4 linked regions of the Homo sapiens genome follow. The protein of the gene in region 2 interacts with the protein of the main gene of each other region in a pairwise test. Each region holds a gene or a part of one and is shown on either strand. Other genes may lie near its edges.

Evidence for each region.
Region 1: the proteins of NUDT3 (region 2) and TUBGCP4 interact in a two-hybrid assay, tested with the Homo sapiens proteins (one large-scale study listed by BioGRID and IntAct).
Region 3: the proteins of NUDT3 (region 2) and CHCHD3 interact in a two-hybrid assay, tested with the Homo sapiens proteins (one large-scale study listed by BioGRID and IntAct).
Region 4: the proteins of NUDT3 (region 2) and REEP5 interact in a two-hybrid assay, tested with the Homo sapiens proteins (one large-scale study listed by BioGRID and IntAct).

What each region holds. Positions count from the first base shown.
Region 1 is NC_000015.10:43,398,528-43,402,120, reverse strand, and holds part of TUBGCP4 (gamma-tubulin complex component 4), read right to left. Parts: intron 3,010-3,593; coding exon of another isoform or gene 2,994-3,009; exon of another isoform or gene 2,947-2,993; intron 2,078-2,946; coding exon 1,900-2,077; intron 406-1,899; coding exon 271-405; intron 1-270. UniProt on the Homo sapiens protein: Component of the gamma-tubulin ring complex (gTuRC) which mediates microtubule nucleation.
Region 2 is NC_000006.12:34,288,170-34,291,669, forward strand, and holds part of NUDT3 (diphosphoinositol polyphosphate phosphohydrolase 1), read right to left. Parts: intron 763-3,500; coding exon 584-762; 3' UTR 1-583. Other genes in the region: RPS10-NUDT3 protein, read right to left, coding at 584-762. UniProt on the Homo sapiens protein: Cleaves a beta-phosphate from the diphosphate groups in PP-InsP5 (diphosphoinositol pentakisphosphate) and [PP]2-InsP4 (bisdiphosphoinositol tetrakisphosphate), suggesting that it may play a role in signal transduction.
Region 3 is NC_000007.14:132,977,499-132,981,091, forward strand, and holds part of CHCHD3 (MICOS complex subunit MIC19), read right to left. Parts: intron 1-3,593. UniProt on the Homo sapiens protein: Component of the MICOS complex, a large protein complex of the mitochondrial inner membrane that plays crucial roles in the maintenance of crista junctions, inner membrane architecture, and formation of contact sites to the outer membrane.
Region 4 is NC_000005.10:112,898,151-112,901,743, forward strand, and holds part of REEP5 (receptor expression-enhancing protein 5), read right to left. Parts: intron 222-3,593; exon of another isoform or gene 1-221. UniProt on the Homo sapiens protein: Plays an essential role in heart function and development by regulating the organization and function of the sarcoplasmic reticulum in cardiomyocytes.

The sequences.
Region 1 (3,593 bases), on a different chromosome or scaffold from region 2:
TTCTGTATTTTTAGTAGAGACGGGTTTTCACCATGTTGGCCAGGCTGGTCTTGAACTCCTGACCTTGTGATCCGCCCACCTCGGCCTCCCAAAGTGCTGGGATTACAGGCATGAGCCACCATGCCCCGCCGCTTTACACATTCTTAAAAAATGTTTTAAAATGGACTTGAATAATTGCTTAATGATGGTTTCGTATCCTGTCAACTCAAACTGCCTAAGGGAATGGTCAGTGGTAGAAGCAGTCTGAGGAAACCAATGAGCCTTACTTACAGGTTTCAATAGGATAAAGGATTGAGCCAGCAAATTGCTCAGGAAGTGGTCATGAGCCAATCGGATGCTTTCAAAGTCTCGGGTAGAATTGATCTGATGAAGCAGCTGGGAGAACTGAGACTCCAACACATCTACCTGATAGACATTACAAAAAATTTTAGCACTTTGCATATTCTAAGCACTCGAAGACATTAAGATGCCTGACAGATTGAAATGAAAATGCTTTGCCTCCACTCATCTTCCTTCTAACCAAGTCACATTAAGGCTGACCAAAGACACCCTTATATTGCCCAGCCTTGTAGGAAGTTATTTGCATAATTCTGAACCCCCTCCCTCCAACGTCCTGGCTGACCACTCTCCCCTGCCCCATCCTTTTCTCTTTTTCCTTTTTTTTTTTTTGAGACGGAGTCTTGCTCTGCCACCCAGGCTGGAGTGCAGTGGTGCGATCCTGGCTCACTGCAACTTCCACATACCAGGGTTCAAGCAATTCTCCTGCCTCAGCCTCCTGAGTAGCTAAGATTACAGGTGCCCGCTACCACGCATGGCTAATTTTTGTATTTTTAGTAGAGAAGGGGTTTCACTATGTTGGCCAGGTTGGTCTCGAACTCCTGACCTCAGGTGATCTGTTTGGCTCAGCCTCCCAAAGTGCTGGGATTACAGGTGTGAGCCACTGCGCCCAGCCTCCCCTGCCCCATCCTAATCCACTCATGGCCACATTCCGTCTACTGACTGACTTGGTCACCTACAGGATTCCAGAAGTTATAGCAAACAATAAAAATAAGGGGCAAGTCAACAATAAATAATAGATTGTTGATGAGGATTCTTTAAAATGCCTTTAAGAGGCTGGTGTGGCGGTGGTTCATGCCTATAATCCCAGCACTTTGGGAGGCAAAGGCAGGAGGATCATTTGAAGCCTGGAGTTTTTTTTTTTTGGAGACGGAGTCTCACTCTGTTGCCCAGGCTGGAGTGCAATGGCATGATCTTGGCTCACTGCAACCTCCACCTCCCAGGTTCAAGCGATTCTCCTGCCTCAGCCTCCCAGGTAGCTGGGACTACAAACAGGCGCCACCACGCTTGGCTAATTTTTTTGTATTTTTAGTAGAGATGGTGTTTCACCATGCTGGCCAGGCTGGTCTCAAACTCCTGACCTCAAGTGATCCGCCCATCTCAGCCTCCCAAAGTGCTGAGATTACAGACGTGACCCATGACACCTCGCTGAAGCCAGGAGTTTGAGACCAGCCTGGGCAACAAAGTGAGAATCCATCTCTACAAAAAATAAAAACAAACCAGCTGGGTGTGGTGGCATGTATCTGTAGTCATAGCTACTTGAGAGGCTGAGGCAGGGGGATCACTTGAGTCCAGGAGCTTGAGGCTTCAGTGAGCTATGACTGTACCACTGCATTCCAGCCTGGGAAACAGAGAAAGACCCTGTCTCTAAAAAATAATAAAATAAAATAAAATAAAATGCTTTTTTTATTTTAAGAAACATGCTTGGTGATATAACTCCTGAATTTTCCCAAACCCCACCATTTTATCAAATAGAAACTTGTAGTCCCTATTCAATACTCCCTGCCAACCTCCTAGACGTTTTTCCGTACCCCTTCCTTCTACTCATCTCTTAGCACAGACCTGGAGATAGTACTGAAGATTATCCACCAAAAATGCCATGTGATTTCTTAGGCGCCACTTGATTGCATCAGTCTGGTTCGACTTGAGGTGCTTGCGCTGCATTTGTAGGGCCCAGCAGTGCTGCAGCTCAGCTTGCACCCGGCGCACACTCAGTAAGTACTTAAAAACAACATTGTACCTAGGACAGAAATAACAGGATATTCAAGACAAAAATTTCATCCCCTGCACTTCCCCCACACGACAGACTCTAGGACTTTGTGCCACCCACTCCTCTCACAAACAGGCAGTAAGGAAAGAGTGACTAGAGATGTAGACAAATAAATTATAATTTATTTATACAATGGAATATTATATAGCAGTCGAATGAACTCCAGCTATACAACAAGATGAGACCCCATCTCTGCATTTTTTAGATAACTTGGGAAATTTCAGTGTGGACTGGATATTAGATTATACCCTTATAATCTTTTTGAATGGTTGACTCGTGTTGCTTCTCATATTCAAAAACATGATTTTTGAATGAAAAAGGTAAATCACAAAAGATTACATATAGCCTTTTCTATAATTCTTAAAGCAGGCCAGGTGTGTTGGCTCATGCCTATAATCCCGGCACTTTGGGAGGCCAAGGCAGGAGAATTACTTAAGCTCAGGGGTTCAAGACCAGCCTGAGCAACATAGTGAGATGCCATCTCTACTAAAAATTAAAAAAATTAGCCAGGTGTGGTGGTGCCCACCTATAGTCCCAGCTGCTTGGGAGGTTGAGGCAGGAAGATTGCTTGAACCCAGGGTTCAAGGCTGCAGTGTGCTGCCTGGGCAACAGAGCAAGACCCTGTCTCAAAAAAAATAGTGTGTTATGAATCAAGGATTATGATGAATCTGATTCTCTGTCGCTGAGAGCCGAAAGAAAGTAAAATAGCTTCCCTCTGAGACAGACTCCCGCTCCTGCCTCCCTGCAAGTTCAGGTGCTAACTGCTTAATGCTGAGACTCCATACTTAAAAGACACACGGGAAGAACAGCTGATTCCTGGTAGAATAGGATTTATTTACCTGTTTGTAGGTAGGCTTGCAGAAGACAGTCCCATTCTGTTTGGTTTTTAAAATTGTCTATTTCTAAAGGAACAAACATAATGAAATGATAGACCTTGTTTGGAAACTGATTTGAACAAACCCAAACATAAAGATAATTTTTAGATAACTGGAGAAATTTCAATGTAGACTGGATATTATAAGGGATTATAAGGGACTACTGTTAATTTTACTGGATGTGATAATGGCATTGTAGTTCTGTTGAAATATGCCTTTTTCAATTGTTTATTGGCAGAATGAAATGACTGTGATTTGCTTTATACAGCTCTAGCAAAAAAGTGGGGGAGGGACAGATAAAAGTAGTATAATGTTGCTGGTTACTGAAGGTGAATAATGAGGACACAGGATTTTGTCTTCTCCCCAGTGGCTAACATCCATAGCAGACATGTAGGCTGGAGGACTTTCCCAAGTAAATCAACAAAAAATATTACAAAAGTGAGGGAGAGACCTTGTCAGGTGTGATGGAATCATCAAGGGCCATTATCTCGACATGGTGCCTAAGACCTTATTTTCCAGAGCTCACAAACTGGCAGCCAACAAACTGCTTATTATTTGGCAATTTAAAAAAATGATGGTTTGAAGTAGATATGCCCTCCCACTGATTCCAA
Region 2 (3,500 bases):
AAATGCCCAAATTAAAAGAGAAAAAAACCTTGAAAAATTAAACAAATTTCTCTTTCTAGAAGTCATTTATTTACATATTATATGTCCGATATATAATGTGTAGATAAATGTATACTGCAGTGAAAGTGACCACTCTACTGAACTGTACAGCACATTATAGGACAAATTATTGGAAGTTTTCATCTCATACTGGTATCTTTTAATAAAAAAAAAAAATTAAAAATCAAAGAAAACGTCTGGCCAGGGCCAGGATAAGACAAACAGGAACACTTCAGAATCCAAGGCAGGGGAAGGCTGTTGGCCTCTCTTCAGAGGACTGCAGGGGTGGGAAGAGGGAGGGACAGATCATGCACAAAAGTACTTACAAATTACACACCCAACCCCCACCCTCAATAAAAACAGAAGAAAAAGCCCCATCACTTAACACCAAACAGCAACATTATCAATACACCCTTTCTTTGCTGCCCACCATGCCTTATTTGAAAGAGGAGGCCTGTGAGAAGTGGAAAGAGCCAGGGTGAGAGGGAAGATTTGCACTTCAGTCTAGTTTCCAATTTCCATTTCTCTTACAGGAAGTCTTCAGTCATCTGATGCCTGACATCGAGCTCTGAGCAGAAACCGAGTATGTGGTGGCCACGACTGGGGTGCCATTGTTGGCTGAGTAGCCTTGCCTCAATGTTTCAAAATATGATGCCTGCACGGGTTTGTGATACTGCAGCACTTTTATGGCGTCTTCTATTTTAAACCATTCCCTCTTCCTTCCTGTGGAGGCAGAGAGAAAAGAAACTAGTACAAGAGTAATAAGGTTTCTGAGCCTAGAACTTTTGAGAAAATATAGAAAACATTAAAGCAATGTTTCTTAACACTTTTTTTCCTTACAAAAATAACTCAAGCACACTTCATATGCTTCAAATATTATATCAATGTCTAATGCAGAAAGGTGAGAAACCTGAAAACCAAAGAGCTAAGAGTAATTGTGTAAAACCTGCCCTCCAGAGAGAACTACGGCTAGTGTTTTCCTCCTGCCCTCCTGCGTCTCTGAGCTTTCCTTGCTTGCACATACATAGGGATCAAAGCCCAGCAGCATCCCCATCTCCTGTAAAAACTGACATGAGGGCCGGATGAGGTGGCTCACGCCTACAATCCCAGCACTTTAGGAGGCTAAGGTGGGCGGATCGCTTGAGCCCAGGAGTTTGAGACTGGCCTGAGCAACATGGCAAAACTCTGTCTCTACAAAAAATACAAAAATTAGCTGGGCATGGTAGCATGTGCCTGTACTCCCAGCTACCCAGGAGGCTGAGGTGGGAGGATCACCTGAGCCCGGAAGGTCGCGGCTGCAGTGAGCTGTCATCGCGCCACTGCACTCCAGCAGGGTGACAGAGTGAGACCCTGTCCCAAGGGGGGAAAAATCAACACGAGCATCAGCTTCCAGAATTACTAGGATGGCTGGTTTGTAATCAGTAATTCATTTAAAAGTTTTCTTATAAGAGTGAATTTATCTACATAATAGAAAATATTTCTTAAAAGAAGTAAAAATAATCTCAATACAATCACACTTTTATTTTTCAGTCTATTTTCTTACTCTTTTCTAGTCCATGCTTTAAAATCCTTTATATTTTTTATCTTATAAAAGTAATAACTACCCATAATCTTATAAACCAGAAAAAACCACTCTCAATACCCTAGCACAACTGCCCTTTTTTCATATACTTGAAAAAGAAACAATCTTGAGACAACCAAAATTGGATCATGCTTTCAGGTACTCTGAATCCTGACCAGCTCTGCTAGAGTGTTATGGTCAGGAACAAGGACTCTGAAGCCAAAGTGCTGGGCTCCAATCACATAAATGGCTCCAATGAGCTGTGCAGCCTCAGGTAGCTGTGTTCCTGCTCCATTTTCCTCATCTATAAAACAGACAATAAATAGGGCCTATCTCACAAGTCTGTTATGACTATTAGTATGGAAAGCACCTGAAGAGTAACTGGCTGCTAAAAGAATGTGCTGCTGAATTTGCTTTTTAATTTTTGTTACTGGTTTTTACTTCATGTTATTTTTTCTTTTCTTTTTCTTTCTCTCTTTTTTTTTTTTCCAGAGATAGGATCTCACAGGCTGGATTGCAGTGGTATGATCATAGTTCACTGCAAACTCAAGCTCCCGAACACGAGGGATCTTCCTGCCCCAGCCTTCCAAGTAGCTAGGACTACAAGCACGTGCCACACCTGCTGCTGCTTCTTTTTTTTTTTTTTTTTTTTTTGGTATAAATGAGGTCTCAAATTCCTGGCCTCAAGTGATCCTCCTGCCTTAGCCTCCCAAAGTACTTGGAATTACAGGCATGAGCCACCACACCTGTCCTATGTCACACTATTTCTTAAGCAATCTATATTATGAAAAAAATATGAGACATTGCCATTGCTAGAAAGGCTAAGGCAGGAGGACTGCTTGAACCCAGGAGGTTGAGGCTGCAGTGAGCTGTGATCATGCCACTGTACTCCAGTCTGGACAACAGAGTGAGACTGTCTTTTTTTTTAAGACATTTATGGCTGCATTATGTCATAGTATCTAGTATGGATGTATTATCATTCACTTAAGCATTTCCATATCACTGGACATCAATTGTCTGTGATTATTATTATTATTATTATTGAGACAGAGTCTCAGTCTGTCACCCAGGCTGGAGTACAGCGATGTGATCCCGGCTCACTGCAACCTCTGCCTCCCAGGCTCAAGCAATTCTCATGGCTCAGCCTCTCAAGTAGCTGGGATTACAGGCGCCCACAACCACACCCAGCTAATTTTTGTTTATTTATTGAGACGGAGGCTCACTCCGTCATGCAGGCTGGAGTGCAGTGGCGTTATCTTAGCTCACTGCAATCTCCGCCTCCCGGGTTCAAGCAATTCTCCTGCCTCAGCCCCCAAGTAGCTGGGACTACAGGTGCACACCACCACGCCCAGCTAATTTTTGTATTTTTAGTAGAGATGGGGTTTCAGCATGTTGGACAGGCTGGTCTCGAACTCCTGACCTCAAGTGATTCACCCGCCTTGGCCTCCCAAAGTGCTGGGATTACAAACGTGATCCACCATGCCCAGTGATTTTAATTATTATAAATAATGCTATTTTTTTAAAACGTTCCCCGTTTTTTCTTTCTTTTTAACCTTCTAGGGAAAGATATCTAGCACAAGAACTACAAAAATAGAGCTTCTGAACTTTCAAGGGCTCCTGATTTATACTGCAAAAGTGCTTTACAGAAAGGCGACACTGATCCCCAGTCCTGCTTGTGTATGTCAGGATGTCAGTCTCACCACATTCCTGCCAATATTAGCTTTTCTTTAACATTGACAAAAATTTTTTTTTTTGAAACAGTCTTATCTGTTGCCCAGGCTGGAGTGCATTGGTGTATTCTTGGCTCACTGCAACCTCCACCTCCTAGGTTCAAGTTATTCTCCTGCCTCAGCTTCCTGAGTAGCTGAAATTACAGGTGTGTGCCACCATGCCTGGCTAA
Region 3 (3,593 bases), on a different chromosome or scaffold from region 2:
TACTGTATTTAACGCATTTGTATGGACATCTTACCCCTAAGTAAAAAAGCATTACCTATTTTTACCAGTGAGGTGGAAACTAAAATAAAATAATAAAATTACTATCATTTATGGATCAACTACTAAGCACTGTGCTAGGCACTTTACAAACATATATAAAATGTTTATTCAAATTCTATTATTAGTTCATGAACATAAAATGAATTCTGTTCAACTGAATTATCACATCTACCACATTTGGTGTATCTAATTTTAAAGTACTGTTTAAAAATTACTACTTTTTTTTTCCATTTTAGTTTACTTATGTATGGCTTAGATTTTAATTACATATGGAGTTCTACATGGTTCAACTTTAAGAAATACAGGATCATAAGGATTTTGGCAAGTTAATGAAAAAGAAGCAAAACATGAGCACAAAAGCCTTCAATGTGATAATAAAAATAAACATATTTAGCTTGCCATGACTGGTACAGATATGCAAACTCTGGGTCCAAATCAAGGCTCTAAACTTCCTATCTGAATAAGTACTTTATTTAATCTCCGGTGAGTCCTGTTATTCTCATGGGTAAAATGAAATAGTGTAATACCTACCTTACAGCGTTCTATATAAACAAGGCACTCAGCACAATGCCCATAACATAATATACACTCAATAAATGTTAGGTAAGTAGCAGTAATAATAATAGTACCCACTATGCGGGTAGGAATACAGAGAAAGCAGTGATTTTACGAAATGAAGAAGACAATCTCCAAATTCACTAACTACAATGCCATCTCCATCATCTTTTCCAATTTTTCACCAATAAATTCTGCTTTATTTTTATGATCTCTAAGGACTTCTAAAATCACAAATTGACTCTACTAACTCCAGCAGCTAGACCCTTTCACAAGCTGCTTCCTTTCCCTCTTGTCCATAGCTCCATAAGGACAACGATTTGCCCTATTTTTGTTCACTGCTATATCCCCCATACTTATAAAAGTGCCTGCCACATATCAAACACGCAAGAAAAAGTTGTTGATGTATGCATGTGTGAATGAATGAATGAATAAATAAATAAATGGCATATTTCTAACCACAAACAAAACAAGGAAAACAAACTGCAAAAGAACACAAGGCGATGGTATATAAGAAACAACTAACGAGACAAACTGTATCCTCCAAGGGCTTAGCCACCATGTTAGATGTGGCACATCTGTGATATAATCCCAGGCTACATTAAATAGCCTACAACAGGAGGTGCCACAACAGTCCAGAGCCCCTCCAACATCAACACCTAACTATATTTGACACCTGGATTGAAAGAGGATTGGCAGTGGTGCAAACTGACTAAAAAGAATATTATTTTCCTTTCTTAATAAATTCTTATACTTTCATTCATCCTTACAAATAGAACTGCACAAATTCTCAAATGTTTTTAAAGGAATGTTTATAAATTTTAAAAAAACTTTTTTTAAGGTCTGTATGGTGACTGTTTAAGAAACCAAATTTTTTGTCATCAGGGAGTTTGGCAGTAGGACTCTGAACAAATTCTCATTTCCTATCAACAACTTAGCTGTACAATCTAATAAGCCTCAGTTTCCTCAGTTTTAAAATTTGAAGGTTGAACTACTATATAATCTTATGGTCCTTTGCATATAAACATTCTAAAAAGTCTATACCTTAAACATATTATTCCTCATTCCATAAAAAATCTTGAAAAAGGTGGTGGCAGGGGATAAATAAAACAGAGGGGCATTATATTATCTCCCAGCTTGATACTGTTATAATTTCTACTCGATGGGCACATATACTTCTACTGTAATCCTGAGATTTCTCACTACAGTACTCAACAAAAACTACACACTGGAATTCATAAATTTATTCAGTATATAATTACTAGGTGAAAGGGACTACTCTGGTTACTGAGAATGAAGTAGTGAGCAAGAGACACAGTCCCTACTTTCATGAGCCATGATTACAAATAACAGATGCATTATTTTTAAAAAGTTAGGTAGGTATCTATGACACTGCATGGGTGGGACTGATATTTAACTTGAGCTCTACAGGACATTAACTGAGCAACATGGGGAAGGAGAAAGTGTCTTAGGCAGAGGAAACATCAGTTGGGTCCAGAAGCACCAAGAAAGGATTTCCTTCAGTTAGATTCCTGTGACACTTAGAAGGGTCTCTGAGGCATGAAATCACCTCTGCAAAGAATTTTACTTGCTTTCAGATTCTCTTGGAGGACAGAGTTTCAATGGTATACTGACTGAGGTTCAGTTTTGACCAGTGCCCAAAGATGAGAAGCTTCTAAGTTGTACCATTTCCCATTTAAAAGCAATAGATTTGAAACTTCAAAATTGTACCATTCTCCATTTCCCCAACCCTCCCCTCCAAAATATTGCATGGCAATTATTTTCTTCTAAGTTTCCTCTTTCAATGGTTCCTGTAAATTCTTTACTGAGCCAAAACCACTTTGCAAAGAAAAACTGCTTATGTTTTCAGAAACCCCCAATTACTTTCAAAGCTTCCTCTCTGGCCCCTTGGTTTTATACCGCATGGAGCTATACTATTCAACAGCCATCTGCAAAAGGTAGATGAGCTGTCAACCAATTTTTCTCTTTTTGAACCAAATAAGACAGCCCTGCCATCTGGGCCTCTCTGAAAACTACTGCCCAGATAGTGGAGCTATAAAATCAGAAGCCATGTTGTTTTGGGAACACTTCACTAAGGAGAGAAGACCCAGGCTCTCACTGACCAAGGGAAGGCAGGACTTTATATGTAAAGGCAGGAGATAAAATAAGTCTCTCATTATTAACTTGGGTTTCCAAAGATTTAAGAATTATCTCAAAACAAAACTAAACATGCCAAGTATCTTAGAGAATACATTCCTTTTTTATTTATTGGCATTTCCCACTTAATATTTTAGATCTCCTGCTCTAATATATTCTACATTAAGTCCCTGATTTAAGTTTCATTTAAATTTCTTTCTTTTAAATACATATCTCTCCTCATTTAAATTCTCTAGAGTTTCAAGCAAAGAAGTAGGAGTTTAGTGTAAACTTTTCTTGTTTGCATTAAGTAATTGGATAGCTTGCCTAAGCTTAATGAAACAAATACCAGTCAGTGCTGCCCTTAGACCTCAAGCCCTAGCAACTTAGCTCTTTCCTCAGTATATTGTCAATCAGGCGAGGGACTTAAGGTACACCAGCAAAATGAATTCCTAAAAGCCAGCCAAATCTCCTATAATAAATATTATTACATGTCCTTTTAAATGGGAAAACAAATTAACTACTTATAAAACATTCAACTTTCATGGACAGCAGGTATAAAATCTAGTTCTCTATATTTTAGTCCCAGGGTAAAAACTAGCCAGTTTGACTTTACTCTAAAGAACCTCAAGTTTTTAAGAAAGTAGAAAGAGAATTTTAAAGATAACTTTAGCAAGGCATTAACATATTGAACTTCATTCACCTCCATAAGGGAGGCATTACTAGCTCTAGTTTTTTTGTTTTTTGTTTTTTTGAAACATGGTCTTGCTCTCTTGCCCAGGCTGGAGTGCAGTGGCATGATCTCGGCTCACTGCAACCTCTGCCTCCCAGGCTCAAGCAAT
Region 4 (3,593 bases), on a different chromosome or scaffold from region 2:
ATGGATTCTAGTCCCTAAAATTCAATACTCTCCTGAACCTTCTCCTACAGACGAGACTCTGCAATTCAGAGGCCTCTTCTCAGTCTGTTCACTAGGTCATTCAGAGTATGCCACTAATGTAGGAAGAAAGTATTTTGATTGACAGCATCATGAATGTTTAATCCTTTCAAGTATGTTATCTATTTGGAATGTATGCAATAAATTCACTTTCATGAACACTATGATGCCATGCAGCTGGAGACTACTAATGGATGCACATTCATTTTACCATTAGGGAAGAAAGTCTGCTACAAAGCAATATTTTAAATGAACTTCAAAACCAAATATAAATGATTCAGTGACTACCATTTATTTTGGATCTTCTCTCTACCTCTCTGTGAACTCCATTAGCAGAGGTGATTAGGAGTAGGCTAGAAGTCAAGCTTGCTCACATTTGGAAGTCTGAGGTCAGAACTACTGCAAGTAGTTCTGCTGACAAGATAGTGTTCACTGCCACAAGCAAGTGGGCCCAAAGCAAAAGCCAATTTCTTTCCACTAAAGACTACTGTGAGGTCCCTACGATTAGATGGATCTTATTAAGGGCTTTAAAATTATCTGAAGTTTAAATTATGTCATGTCCAAATTAAAGATTGTAAGAATATTTTTATAAATGTTAAATGACTTTGAATAATAAAAACAAAAAAATCCAATCTTTGAAATCAACTCTTTCCACAGACCAATTTTTATTTTCTTCCATCAGTTTTGAAAGGAAAATTCTTAATTGCCTTACAAGGCATTCTGTGGTGAAGTCATTCAAAAATATAAAAGAATCTATACTGAGCATGTTTTCATTTAATTTTTTAAACTTTAAAAGACACTCACTTCATATAGTGTCTTGTCTTTTTTCTTTTTTAACCATAAATGGTGTGATACTGTATTTAATGTTCTATTACTTTTTTTCTTTTTCGAGACAGGGTCTCACTCTGTCACCCAGGCTAGAGTGCAGTTGGGTGATCATTGCTTATTGTAGCCTTGAACTCCTGGGCTCAAACCATCCTCCCACCTCAGCCTCCTGAGCAGATGGGACCACAGGCATGCACCACCATGCCTGGCATTTGTTTTTTGGTTTTCGGTTTTTTTTTTTTTGGTCAACATGCTGTGATCTGGGAGCCTGGTTAATTTTTAAATTTGTGTGTGTGGAGACAGGGTCTCACCATGTTGCCCAGGATGGTGTCAAACTCCTGGCCTCAAGCAGTCCTTCTGCCTTGGCCTCCGAGTATGCTGGGATTACAGGCAAAAGCTAGCACAACTGTCCTGTATAACTTTTCATAATTACTAAATTATGCAAAAATTTCTGGGTCTGTACATATGGATCTATTTCATTCCATTTAACTGTATGGATATACTATTAATTGAATGAACCATTTACCTGCTGATGGACATTTCTGTTTATAATGTTTACATTATGCAGTTCATATTATATACAGTTGACAACAAAAAATGCTGCCATGAATATCTTTGTGCAGCTCTTTAATGCACAGTGACTATTTCCTTAGAATTGTTAAGAGTATCATTTTTCAATTCAACAAGAAATGGTTAAAAGGTCCCTTAAAAAGGTTATTCAAGTTTATACCACTAGGCTGTTAAGTATCCCTTATGTGAAATGCTTGGGACTAAAAGTGTTTCGGGTTTCACATTTATTCAGATTTTGGAATATGTACATTATACCAACTGAGCATACCAAATCAGAAACTCTAAAATCTAAATGCTCCAATGAGCATTTCCTTTGATCATTATGTGGGCACTCAAAAAGTTTGGGGTTTTAAAGCATTTAGGATTTCCAATTTCAGATGTTCAGCCTGTACCATTACATGTCCATTTCCCTATACATTCACCAATACCAGATATTTTCAATCTTTAAAATATCTGCCAGTTTAATGAACAAAATATGGGATTTCACTATTTTAACTCACACTTCCCACATCACTGGTGAGCTGTTTACTAGCCATTCATATTTTTTCTCTTCCGTGAAATACTTAACTTAGAACCTTTTCCCATTTTCTTTTTCTTTTTACTTATGGAAATTGTTATGTATTCTGGATATTCCTTATTTGGTGTAAATGTTGTAAATCTATCTTCCTAGTCTGTCATTATTTTAACTTTGTTTATGCTGCCCACTGTCATATAGAAATTTAATTTTTAGAAATTTTTAGTTGAATTTATCAAATCTTTTTCTTTGAAACTTTTGTATTTTGTCTTGCTTCTATACCTCAAAGTTAAAAAATATTGTCCTCTACTTTTTTCTAAAACAGAGGTTTTGGCATAAAAGTCCTGTCTTTGCAAATCACTCAGGAAAACAGGTGGACACTAACTAAAGGCAGTTACTTCCCTACCCCTCCTGCTCCAACCCCTAGAGCTGTGAACTATAACCCAGGATCACTTCCTTTTGATGCTGCTTTGCTGGGGTAGAAGGGGACTGTACAGTGAAGCTTTGACCTGAGGAGCTCTTCTGTAGGTGAAGAGTGGTTAACTATGGTTCCTGTGTGCCTGGGGCCCCCCACTCCTAGGACTCATCCACCCCCTACCCAGAACTTACTAGTACTAGCATGGACTGGGGCCCCCTCCATTCCAGTGCCTGATGGGATAGCTGATACTCATGGATGAAAAGCAGTTTGTAGGCTAAAATAAAAAGATATTTTAAGAATATATTTCTTTTTTTTTTTTTAGAGATGGAGTCTGGCTCTGTTGCCTAGGCTGGAGTGCAGTAGTGTGATCTCGGTTCACTGCAACCTCTGCATCCCAGATTCAAGCAGTTCTCCTGCCTCACCTCCTGAGTAGCTGGGACTACAGGTGCACTCTGCCACACCCAGCTAATTTCGTTTGTATTTTAGTAGAGACAGGGTTTCACCGTGTTGCCCAGGCTGGTCTCGAACTCCTGAGCTCAGGCCATCTGCCCGCCTCGGCCTCCCAAAGTGCTAGAATTGCAGGCATGAGCCACCACGCCTGGCCAAGAGTACATTTCAAAAGAAAAACAACACAATCAACTACAAGTTTTGGTCAGGAGCAACAATATTAGAACTGCTGACCAAGAATTTTAAACTGGGGAGCGGTAACCATACTAAAAGAAATGAGAAAATATTAGCAATATGAAACAAGGACAAGAAGAAGAGAGCCAAGCAAAAACATTAGGTGTGAACAATATAATAGTTGAAATGAAGAACACGGTATATAGCAGGAATAACAGAATGGTTATAATGTAATCATGGAGTACAGTTGAAAATTAGATGGTCAGATTGAGTCCGGGCACGGTGGCTCACGCCTGTAATCCCAGCACTTTGGGAGGCCGAGGTGGGTGGATTGCTTAAGGTCAGGAGTTCGAGAGCACCCTGGCCAACATGGTGAAACTCTTTCTCTACCAAAAAAAATACAAAAATTGACCAGGCGTGGTGGCACATGCCTGTAATCCCAGCTACTCGGGAGGCTGAGGCAGGACAATCACTTGAACCCAGGATGCGGAGGTTGCAGTGAGCGGAGATTGTACCATGGCACTCTAGCCTGGGCAACAGACCAAGAGTCCATCTCAGAAAAAAAAAAAAGGAGGTCAGATTGAGAAA